Homo sapiens: one gene and its partners. The protein of the gene in region 2 purifies or fractionates together with the protein of the main gene of each other region. This does not show direct contact. Each region holds a gene or a part of one and is shown on either strand. Other genes may lie near its edges.

What was found.
Region 1: the proteins of FAM219B (region 2) and KLHL13 purify together in Homo sapiens (affinity purification with mass spectrometry; one large-scale study listed by BioGRID and IntAct). This does not show direct contact.
Region 3: the proteins of FAM219B (region 2) and KLHL26 purify together in Homo sapiens (affinity purification with mass spectrometry; one large-scale study listed by BioGRID and IntAct). This does not show direct contact.

The regions. Positions count from the first base shown.
Region 1 is NC_000023.11:117,907,219-117,910,865, reverse strand, and holds part of KLHL13 (kelch-like protein 13), read left to right. Parts: intron 1-769; coding exon 770-1,565; intron 1,566-3,647. UniProt on the Homo sapiens protein: Substrate-specific adapter of a BCR (BTB-CUL3-RBX1) E3 ubiquitin-protein ligase complex required for mitotic progression and cytokinesis.
Region 2 is NC_000015.10:74,903,976-74,908,180, forward strand, and holds the start of FAM219B (protein FAM219B), read right to left. Parts: upstream 2,877-4,205; 5' UTR 2,826-2,876; coding exon 2,612-2,825; intron 2,391-2,611; coding exon 2,303-2,390; intron 1,257-2,302; coding exon 1,179-1,256; intron 1,085-1,178; exon of another isoform or gene 1,007-1,084; intron 738-1,006; coding exon 689-737; intron 1-688.
Region 3 is NC_000019.10:18,664,452-18,668,098, reverse strand, and holds part of KLHL26 (kelch-like protein 26), read right to left. Parts: intron 699-3,647; coding exon of another isoform or gene 656-698; exon of another isoform or gene 523-655; coding exon of another isoform or gene 436-522; coding exon 1-435. UniProt on the Homo sapiens protein: May play a role in endo(sarco)plasmic reticulum (ER/SR) mitochondrial signaling. May be part of the ubiquitin-proteasome system (UPS) and affect ubiquitination and degradation of target substrates in cardiomyocytes.

The DNA of each region.
Region 1 (3,647 bases), on a different chromosome or scaffold from region 2:
AGAAACAGAATGTGCTGAAAGTAAGAGTGGCTAAGGAAAGCTGTGTTGCCCAGATGGAAGCAGTCATCACAGATACCAAAATCTCATTTACATGAGAGATTTGTTGTAGATATACCCCTCTGCCCTTAAGAAAGACATTTCCTTGCTTATATTTCCAGATAAATAATGTTGAAAATTAATTTGCCCTAGGGATAATTATCTTATTAAATTATTTTCATTATGAGTGATAACTTTGAAGGAACCAAAATGAATGATAGTAATGAGTGATGCCTATTTACGTGAAAGGGAAATCTAGGGTTTGGGTATTAGAGCTTTTCTGTTCATGGATCTGCTAGCTGTGTGGTATTTTTAAGAATAATGACTAAGAAGTGGATTGAGATGAATCATAATAGAACAACCTTCTATTTTCCCAAGTTTCCATCTGGCAGGAATTTTATCAGTATTTTGGGGGTGGGGGTGGGATACATTTTTGAGGAGAGAAGAGTAACTGGTTTGGCCATATTCCAGTTATAACATTGTTTCTTAGAGTAGCTTCTAACTTACTGACTTTGATCATTTTCTTTTAGTCAGCCTTCTAGTGGATTAAGTAAAGGTGGTTTGCAAATTATCTGTTTGTAGATCATTGATACATTTAGATAAGAATCCTATTTGTATCTATTTGAACATTAAAAGCATAATTTACTCTTATTCTAGAACAGGTATTTGTGCTATCAAGATGTGATTGCCATGAAAGTAGTCATGTTTTAATTTTTTTTAATTGGCTTAATAGGTCACTTTAGACAACTGTGTTGAAGTTGGACGGATTGCCAACACCTACAATCTAACCGAAGTGGATAAATACGTTAACAGTTTCGTCTTGAAGAATTTTCCTGCATTGCTGAGCACAGGGGAGTTCTTGAAACTCCCTTTTGAGCGTCTTGCCTTCGTGCTTTCCAGTAATAGCCTTAAGCACTGTACTGAACTTGAGCTCTTTAAGGCTACCTGTCGTTGGCTTCGCCTGGAAGAGCCTCGGATGGACTTTGCTGCAAAATTAATGAAGAACATACGATTTCCACTGATGACACCACAGGAGCTCATTAATTACGTGCAAACGGTGGATTTCATGAGAACTGACAATACTTGTGTGAATTTGCTTTTGGAAGCCAGCAATTACCAAATGATGCCATATATGCAGCCAGTTATGCAGTCAGACAGGACTGCCATTAGGTCTGACACCACTCACTTGGTTACACTAGGAGGAGTGCTGAGGCAGCAGCTGGTTGTCAGTAAGGAATTGCGCATGTATGATGAAAAGGCCCATGAGTGGAAATCGTTAGCCCCCATGGATGCCCCAAGGTACCAGCATGGCATCGCCGTCATTGGAAATTTTCTCTATGTGGTTGGCGGACAGAGTAATTATGATACAAAAGGAAAAACGGCAGTTGATACAGTCTTCAGATTTGATCCTCGATACAATAAATGGATGCAAGTTGCATCTTTAAATGAAAAGCGCACCTTCTTCCACCTAAGTGCCCTCAAAGGATATCTGTATGCAGTTGGTGGGCGAAATGCAGCAGGTGAACTGCGTAAGTGCATTTATATTAAGCATAGAGACAAATTTCTTCACTCAGAAATTCTTATCAAATCATAAAATAAGCAGTCCTGTAAAATCAGATAAAAATGTAGTTAGGGTTTTATTTTAAAACTATTTTTCTGAGAAAATATTGAAGACCATCTTTATGCCTTATCTGGGCATATATCGTTGGCAAGGGAACAAATTGTACGTTACAAATACATCAGTATATTGTAGCATATTTCACCTGTGCAGTATATATGGTCTTCATCTTGAAGGTTCATCTAAAGAGTATACTTAGCTCATTTAAATTATAATAAGGTCTTGGATAGAAGTTTGGCATGTTTTCTCATTTTCTGCTTTTAAAAGGCCATATGATATTTTACTGAACAGGTTACAATCCTTCATTACAGAAAACTTTCATTGTTTCTTCTTTTACAAAATATGTTACCTATTAGTGGCCACAAAGATAATTTTCTTTATAGATTAAATGTACAAAGTTCAACATTATCCAAAGTTTGTTCACTGTGAATATTATGATCTATGACTGTTTTAAAAATAATTCTGTTGACGTAATATCAGATAGTTTTCTTTTCCATAAGCCCATCTGGTAAGCTTTATTTGATGGTCACCTTTTTGTCTTCCCAGTATAAAATTGGTCATAAATGTACTTTGATGTAGAATACTTTGGCTATGTAAATTAACCCAAAAAGGTAAAATTTTATTATTTCAGATAAAATTGGGATAGTATAATTTTTCCAAAAATAAAGGCAGGAAGTCCACATTTTATGTTGTGACATATATTTGTCATTACCATTATTGTTTGGCCTTGTTTTCAATTATTTTATTCTCTATTATAAATAGAGTCTGTCACAGGGAGGGGAACATCACACACCAGGGCCTGTCTGGGGTTGGGGGGCTAGGGGAGGGATAGCATTAGGAGAAATACCTAATGTAGGTGACAGGTTGATGGGTGCAGCAAACCACCATGGCACGTGTATACTTATGTAACAAAACAGCACGTTCTGCACATGTACCCCAGAACTTAAAGTATAATAATATAAATAAATAAGTAAATAAATAAAAAATACAAAAAAGACAGAAAGACAGAAAGGAAGAAAGAAAGAAAGAAAGCCAGATGTGGCTCATGCCTGTAGTCCTAGCTGTTAGGGAGGCTGAAGCAGGATTGCTTGAACACAATAAATAAATAAATAAATAAATAAATAAATAAATAAATAAATAAATAATGTCCTTGTAGTTGACCAATTCCAGGCTCCATAGAGCTGGGAAAGTTCAAAATATTGGCATTGGCTCTGGATAAGTTCAGAGTAATTCTCAGAATCTTTATTTTTCAATATTCTAAGAAATAAAAGATAGTTTAATGTATTTGAGACTAAGCTATTTATCAGAGAATAGAATAACTGTTCTCAGCTTTTATACTTTCCTGTTTATAAAACCCTTTCTTGTTAGTGACATGGTCTTTTTCCTGATCTTTTCTACCCAAAGTTTTTTTTTCTTTGTTGTTACAATGATATTTTTTTCTAAGACCAGATTTTCTAGATTGTTGGACTATGTCGCATGATCATGAACTGCATAGGTTTTCCAATATATTTTAATAATTGGACTTTTAAAAGCAGTTAAGGCATAAGTGTCCTTAGTGTACAATTGTTCTTTAGGCCTCCTCAGTCAACCTACACACATTATTTTCATGTTATTATACTATTTTAAATTTGCGGTATCTGGAAATATCTAGAAGGTGCAAGTAGTGACTTGGTTGTTTCTTAGAAAATCCCTGTATAAGATAATGTTTTCTTAAATATTTTCTTCACAAATAACAGGTCATTAACTTGGTCAGTCTTCTTTTCTCAAAGGAAGTAGCTCCGTTTTTCAAAGTCAGTCCTTGCTTGTTGATATTATCACCCCTGTTAATATGCGGCTACTTAGCTTTCAATATATAGTTCCTAATACTAATTAAAAGCCATATTCTTCTGGGAGTTTTTAATCTTCAGGCCAAGGAGAGTCATTACATAAAACCAAGATGCTAGAGGCTTCTTTCTTTGAACCTATCCCAACTCTCTTTCAGCTGCTCCTATGG
Region 2 (4,205 bases):
CTGGAAGAAAGCAAGCTTGGTGAAAGATGGGCAGGGGAGAGACGGAAATGCTGATCTCAGAGAAACTAGAGTTGCTGTGTGACACTGGAAAGCAGGTCAAGGACCAATGGACCCATTCAGATTAATAAGGAAGATTTCTCTAACAGCTACTCAAAGAAAAAATTCTGTGTGTGTTGAGGGAAGGGTGGGTAGCAAGGCTCCTTGGAGGTGGTCAGTACCCAATTACAAAAAGCATTCAAGTAAGCACAGACTAGCAAACACTTAGCTGGGATCTATCAAAAGGGTTCCTTTTGTAAGCTGTGGCCTAGAAGACTTTTATTTTAGAGTCTTATTTTAGAGACAGGGTCTTGCTATATTGTCCAGGCTGGTCTTGGAACTCCTGGGCTCAAGCAATCCTCCTGCCTCAGCCTCCCTAGTAGCTGGGACTACAGGCATGTACCACCATGCCCAGCTTACATGACTTCTGAGATCATTTCTAGCCCTGAGTCTAAATGGTCTCCTCGATTCTCAACAGCCCTCCTTGGTCACCTATACCTCCACCGGGGGAAGAGGGCAGAGTGGAAGATCGTAGAACAGACCAGAAGTCTGGCACAGTGCTGTGCTCACAGCGGGCACCAAACAAGCATTTGGCAGTGGTGGTAATGCTGCCTGCAGCCTGGCCCTGCACAGAAAGGTGTTCTGGACTTGCCTCTGCAGATGAATACCCGGAGGAGTATCTGGATCCCAGCTCCCCATCACTAGGAGAAGAGGAAAACAGTCAGTTCCGGGAGGTACCTGTGGTGCACAGCTGTAAATCATCAGGCGGAGAGCATGCAAGGGCATCTGGAAGACTTTTGAAGCAAAGGCCACACACAACAGAACTCAAGTCCGAACAGGCCTTGAATAATACTGGTTCCCTCAATTGGTTCTGGCAGGGACAGGGTCACTCTCACTAACAATGCAAACATAACAGGGCAGGATGATCCCCCGGACATTGGTGCTCCGAATTCTAGAGCAGCACGATTACCTATGAGTCTTCTAACCAAGCCATCCTGGGAAGGGATATTGTTCAGAAGAGAACGGCCCTGGAATGTACATGAAGGGCCTTGGAGGAGACAGGGAACAAGCAAAGGCATCAGGCGATCTTCAGTCCCAGCCAAGTTGCTTCCCAAGGGGGTATTTCCAAGGGGAGCACTCACCTGTCAGAGTCGAGGGACACCAGGTTTTCATCTGGACTCTGGCTAAGAGCAGTATAGCCCTTGTTAAACTTCACTGACCTGAGGGGAGACGGGGGAGAAGAGACCAAACATAGATGAAAGCATAGGCATTTCACAGGGATAGGCAGAGTCCTCGCCCTGAAGGAGAAAGAATTGACTGCACTACTGACTTGCCTTCTCCCTGGTCACAGCCACCACTGCCTGCAGCTCCATGTACCTGGCTACAGTGCCTCAGAATGTGTATGTTCTCATTCTTTTTTTCTTTTTTTGGAGACAGAGTCTGGCCCTGTCACCCAGGCTGCAGTGCAGTGGCGCGATCTCGGCTCACTGCAATCTCCGCCTACCATGCTCAAGTGATTTTCCTGCCTCAGCCTCTTGAGTAGCTGGGACTACAGGCGTGCCCAGCTAATTTTGTATTTTTAATAGAGACGGGCTTTCACCATGTTGGCCAGGCTGGTCTCGAACTCCTGACTTCAAGTGATCCACCCGCCTCGGCTTCCCAAAGTGCTGGAATTACAGTCGTGAGCCACCACGCCCGGCCTGTATTCTACTCCTCCCATAGGTCTTGGAAAAAAGCACACCTCCCCTTGCCTGATCTAGGAAAAGCACCCTCTCCCCACTTATTTAATCAGAGGACACAAAAACTGCAAGTCTTTGGGTAAAAGGTTAGGGTTAACCTTCACTTCTCCGAGTTTCAACCCTCATCTGTAAAAGGAGGCACTGAATAAGGTTCTATGCAGCTCCGAGTTTACTATTCTGTTAAAAACAAACAAACAAAAACAGGTCTAGCCATTCCCACACTGCTCTTCGTCCTCATTGCTGGGGACTCCAGCCACCATTCTCCTCCCTAACAGAGGAGGAGAATGATAGTGAATGAGCCTGTGCACTCACAGAACTCCCTTATTCCGAAGCCCTTTATCTGATCCTATCACATCCTTAAAGGAAAAGAGAGATTGTTCCTCTTCCCATTTTAAAGATAGTGAACCTGACAGGTTGCATCAGGGGAATCGCTAGCTCGGCCTTAAACCAGAGCACCCTGCCTCCGTCCTGGGGATTAAAGCCTTCTCTAAAGCTGCTGGCACAGAGGAGGTGGCGCCTGCTGAGACCTTTTCCCTGAAGAGTCTGGGCGGTTCGGCGAGGCCCCCAGCATGCCTTTTCTCCGCAGAACGGCCTTGGCCAGGTCCCGGTGCTTCTCTGGAAGTTAAAGGACCCGGGTCAGCCGGGTCTTCCCCACTCCGCCGCGTCTCCCGAAGGCTGGGAGGCCGCTCTTTCCGAACGGATTTTGAGGGGCGAGAGCAGGCTGCAGCTAACCCCTTCCCTCCGGGGCCGAGGCCCAGCGGAGCTCCGGAACCCGCCCTGGGGACGCGGCCGCCCGCCCAGGGAGAAACCTCCCCCGACCATCGGGCCACACTCACGCAGCTTGGCTTGAATGGAGGGTGCGCGCGTCACCATGTATGGCCCCCGCTTTTCCACGGCCGCGGGGGTGCGCTCCCCCAGACGGAGGGCTCTATTACCGATCTGCCCGGAGGGTGGCCCCGCAGCTCCCGGCGCGCGGTCCCGAGCCCCGCTGGGCCGGGGTCCCGGGGTAGACAACCGCAACGCGCGCCCGCTGGGCTCCGCGGTCGCCATGGCCGGGCCCCGCCCTGCCGGATGGTGCAACCCCGCCCGTGGCGAAAGAGTGACCGGCCGAGGGAGAGGCGGGCTCTTTTAACAAGATGGCGGTGCGCAGGCGCAGGTAGTCCCCTTTCGGAGCTCTCCGGTTCGGTAGTCTGAGGACTTGGCCGAAATGTTCCGCCCTTCTTTTCGGGGGGACCGGGCAGTTCCGTTCTCGGTTTTGGGGTAGGCGGCTTGAGCCTGGTGATGGTTAGGCTTAGTTCTGTCTCTAGTGGAAATTAAATACTGATACTGTCGTGGGGCTGCGCGTGTGCGTCGGTCGGGTGCCCACGGTTTGAGTCCTGGCGCGCCGCACTCTGTGCTTCTCGCAGTGTCTCCTTGGGGGTCTCCCCACATGTGGGGCTGCCAGAGAGCAGACTTGGGTTGAAGAGTCATATGAGGACAAGCGTTATCAGCGACCTTTTCTAGCAAAAGAAACAGGCCCCAGAAGTTAAAGAACCTTGTGAAGGTGACACATCTAGAGGCAGTGCTTGCGCTGATCCATCTGACGCCAAACCCCACCTTCTTTCCAACACCAATTGGTGCCTGTGACATTGGACAGGACCTGACCCTCTCTAGGCCTCAGTTTCCACATTTAAAAATAGAGCCAATGTCACTACTCATTGTACAGTGAGGCAAATAGGCGTTGAAAAGGAGGGTGAAAGTGCACTCTGAGTCTGTGTGTGGTAGGCTATGTGTCAGGGCTCTTGACTTCTCTAGCCCCCAAGGGATGTGCTTGTGACTGGCTGGAAAGAAACTCCAGATCCTTGTAGAACTCCCAAATCTCATGAGGCTGTCCCTTGACTAACTTACTGGCTTCAATAGGGTAGGTCAACAGTGTGCAACCTCCGAGCTCCCAGGGCCACGCAGACCGTTGGGTGGCACTATGCCTTGGGCAAGAGAGGTGAAAAGGAAGAATTTAGGGCTGAAGTTTTCAAAAATCAAAAGCACAAAGGAATCCTTACCATTTTGGTAGATTCCCCCCACTCCCCATGATGTTAGACTGTTTTTGCCTCCAGAAACAGCAGGTTCATATAGCTCAACTTAGTATTTAATGGTTATAACCTCCCAATGAAGCCAATAGTTATTCTTGTTAAACAAATGAAGCTTAGACTTGGTCAAGTTTACCAGTTAAGTGATAAACCTGGAATTTGTACCCAGTTGCCTGTGGACTCCAAAGAAGTAGTTTTCTGGCCGGGCACAGTGGCTCACATCTGTAATCCCAGCACTTTGGGAGGCTGAGGCAGGCGGATCACCCGAGGTAGGGAGTTCAAGACCAGCTTGGCCAACATGGTGAAACCCCATCTCTACTGAAAATACAAAATTAGCCGGGCGTGGTGGCGGGTGCCTATAATC
Region 3 (3,647 bases), on a different chromosome or scaffold from region 2:
AGCCAGCGGACGGCCGCGCGGAACAGGTCGATCTCGGCACAGCTCTGCAGCCGGTTGCTCTGCAGGAAGAAGACCAGGCGCTCCAGTGGCAGGCGCAGGAAATCCTCCTCCTCGGCGATCTGCAGGAAGTGCCGGAAGGTGAAGGCATCCACCGACTCTCGCAGCGAGGCCAGGCTGAAGGTGGTGGCCATCTGGCCGATGTTGAGGCAGGTCTCCACGCTCATGGCCGCCTTCAGGAACTCCTCGCACAGCTCCACCACGGGCAGCATCTGCAAGAACACGGCCGCGCCCAGCACGTCCTGCACGCAGTCCAGGTCCAGTGTCACCTCGGCGCTGTAGGCGAAGTCGATGATGTGCCGCAGGCCACGGGCCGACACGCCCTTCAGCTCGATGACGTCCTGGCTTGCCTCCCGCATGCCGCCGGTGAACATGGCCCTGAAGGGCAGAAACACAACGTGTGGCTGGCAGTGGCTGAGGGGTGTTTTGGCCAGCCAGGAATGATCTGGCCTGGGGAACAGTAGCCTGGGGACACAGAACACAGGGCACAGCCAGCAAGAGGAAAGTAGGCGGAATGCTCATTAAAAACATGCAAAGGGGCCGGGCGCGGTGGCTCATGCCTGTAATCCCAGCACTTTGGGAAGCCCAGGCGGGTGGATCATGAGATCAGGAGATCGAGACCACTGGCACTGCACTCCAGCCTGGGTGACAGAGTGAGACTCAGTCACAAAAACAAACAAACAAACAAACAAACAAAAACATGCAAAGGCCAGGCACAGTGGCTCACGCCTGTAATCCTAGCACTTTGGGAGGCCGAGGTGGGTGGATCACCTGATGTCAGGAGTTCAAGACCAACCTGGAGGTTGCAGTGAGCCGAGATCATGCTGCACTGCAGCCTGGACAATAAGAGTGAGACTCTGTCTCAAACAAACAAAAAAAACATGCAAAAAAAAAAAAAGATTTTGAATCCACCCAAGCCATGCATCTTCCTATAAATAGCAACTCCCTGCTTGGCCCCTCTGCAGAGGACCCTGCCCCTGCCCCTTCATGACTAGATCGTGTTGGAGCTGCAGGAGCGGTGGCCCGGGTCAGCCTCACCCACAATGTGCCTGTCGGGGGTGCGGTTAGAGGGGCCAGGTATGGCAGTGCAGGATGAGAACACACCCTGTGGCTCTGGGGACAGATCTGCAGCCCCACTTGACACCTGAGCTCAGGAACTGCAAGGCCAGTGCTCTGGAGGTGCCATGCACCACAGTTCAACCCTCACCTTGTTCACTGACCTAAGCAGGCAGCTCTGATATGCCCAGCCTGAGTCTCAACAACCATCATGTGAAGAGGGGAAGGTAATGAGGGTCCCCAGGAATGGAGCCCCCACCAGGAGGCTGTGCTGGGGTGACTGCTGTCTCCAGAGACAGGCTCAGGTGGTCGGGGAAGCACCTCCCACCCAACAGCTACGTCCCCAGCCTCCATTGAGACCCCAGCTCCGCCCTTGTACTGCTGTGCTCTGCGAGGCAGAACATGAGAGTGGGAGGGGACACAGGCCCCCGTGAGGGAGGGCAGCGGGGAGGCACACGGTTCTAGGTCACAGTTCCCCTACAGCGTTTAGGGTGTTCCCCAGCAGAAGAGGGGAGAGCACCCCAGCTCCAGGGGAATGGGCGGTTCCTTCCAGGAGGCGCAATGGCATGGCATAGTAACTCTCACTCCTGCCAGTGCACCTCCCCTGATGGCCGTCCGAGGAGGAGGGAACATCCCTTGTGCATTTGACCCACAGAGGCCTGTCCCCTAGTCTTGCACCTCCTGTGAGCCAGGCTCAGGGCTACAGGGGCAAGGACAGCTGCCAGGGCACTATCTCGGGGCCGCCCACTGACATCTGCCCAACAAGCAGCTCTTCAGCATCTCTGAGCGGTCCAGGAGCAGTAAGTACGCTGCCAGCTCCCCAGACCCTGCCCCGCTTGTCCCCACGGGTCCACGCTGGCCCTCGGGCATGATGCGATGAAGGCAGAGGCGGTCGCAGGCGACAGGAGGGAGCTTTGCCTTTTAAGGTCTCGCTGGCTGCAGTGCCAGCACAGGGGAGCCTTTAAAGGGCATTGCTGGCTGGGCTGGCCCACCCGTCCCCAAATCCAGAATAAAAATAGAAGCGGCGCCCCAGTTGGCTCGGCTGCTGCGGCCCCCACAACAGCCTCATTGAGCCCATGGGGCAGGCGGCCCGGGCCTCGGGGAATGTGTGGCTGAGCGGCACACCTGGGCTGGGGCCTGGGAGCCTCCCCAGGGCGGCCCAGCTCTCTCTGGCGGGGTCACCACCTGGCAGGAAGGAGGCTCACCTGCTGGTCACCCAGGGAGGGAGACCACTCAGCCCTGCAACAGCCCCCAGCTGGCGAGGAGAAAGCACCCCCCACCCCACAGCCCTGCTCTGTGGTGCTCTCACTTCCGGCCCGGCCACGGCACAGGGACAGACAGACAGTGCCCGCCATGGCCTCTTCTGTCACGTTGGGGAAGTGCCCACAGCTCAGGGAGACAGGGAGGAGAACTCATCTGGGCCTCAGACAGAGCCCAGGACATGGTGTTGGCAGACACAGGGTCTCTGCGGCCCTCGATGCCCCTCCAGTCCCCCAGCTGTCCTGCTCCAGGTGTCCTGAGGGGATGCCCTGAGGGCAGGGGCTTGTGCCCATTTCACTGTCATCCCTGCTGCATCCCAAGGACTAGAATAGTGCCTGGCATACAGCAGGCGTCAAGTAAAGACAGATTGGGCTGGGCGCAGTGGCTCACGCCTGTAATCCCAGCACTTTGGGAGGCTGAGGCAGGTGGCTCATGAGGTCAGGAAATCAAGACCATCCTGGCTAACATGGTGAAACCCCGTCTCTACTAAAAATACAAAAAATTAGCCAGGTGTGGTGGCATGCGCCTGTAGTCCCAGCTACTCGGGAGGCTGAGGCAGGAGAATCGCTTGAACCCGGGAGGCGGAGGTTGCAATGAGCCAAGATTGTGCTACTGCACTCCAGCCTGGGCGACACAGCGAGACTTTGTCTCAAAAAAAAAAAAAACAAAACAGATCAAAAACCTGGCCAAGCCCTGCCACCCTGCATGCAGGGTAGAAGTGAGTGGGTGCCCACAGGCCATCTCTGTCCCTCCAGGCATGTTCTGCCCAAAGAGAGTAAGATGCAAACTCCGGGAAACCTGCAGGTTTACTGGACATTAAACCTCTCTCTAAAATCAGAAGGGGCCCGGAGCGGTGGCTCACGCCTATAATCTCAGCACTTTGGGAGGCCAAGGCAGGCAGATCACGAAGTCAGGAGTTCAATACCAGCCTGGCCAACATGGTGAAACCCCGTCTCTACTAAAAAATACAAAAAAAATTAGCTGGGCATGGTGGCGGGTGCCTGTACTCCCAGCTACTCGGGAGGCTGAGGCAGGAGAACTGCTTGAACCCAGGAGGCGGAGGTTGCAGTGAGCCGAGATTGTGCCACTGCACTCCAGCCTGGGCAACAGCGCGAGACTCCATCTCAAAAAAAAAAAAAGAGCAGCCGGTACCAGCCGTTCTCCCTCGAAGCTGTCCCTGGGTAGCGCTGAGACAGGCCCCCTTTAGAAAGTGGGTGCCATCTGCCCTGTCCCTGTCCCAACAGGCAGCCGCCCCTTCCAGCTGCCTGGGGCCA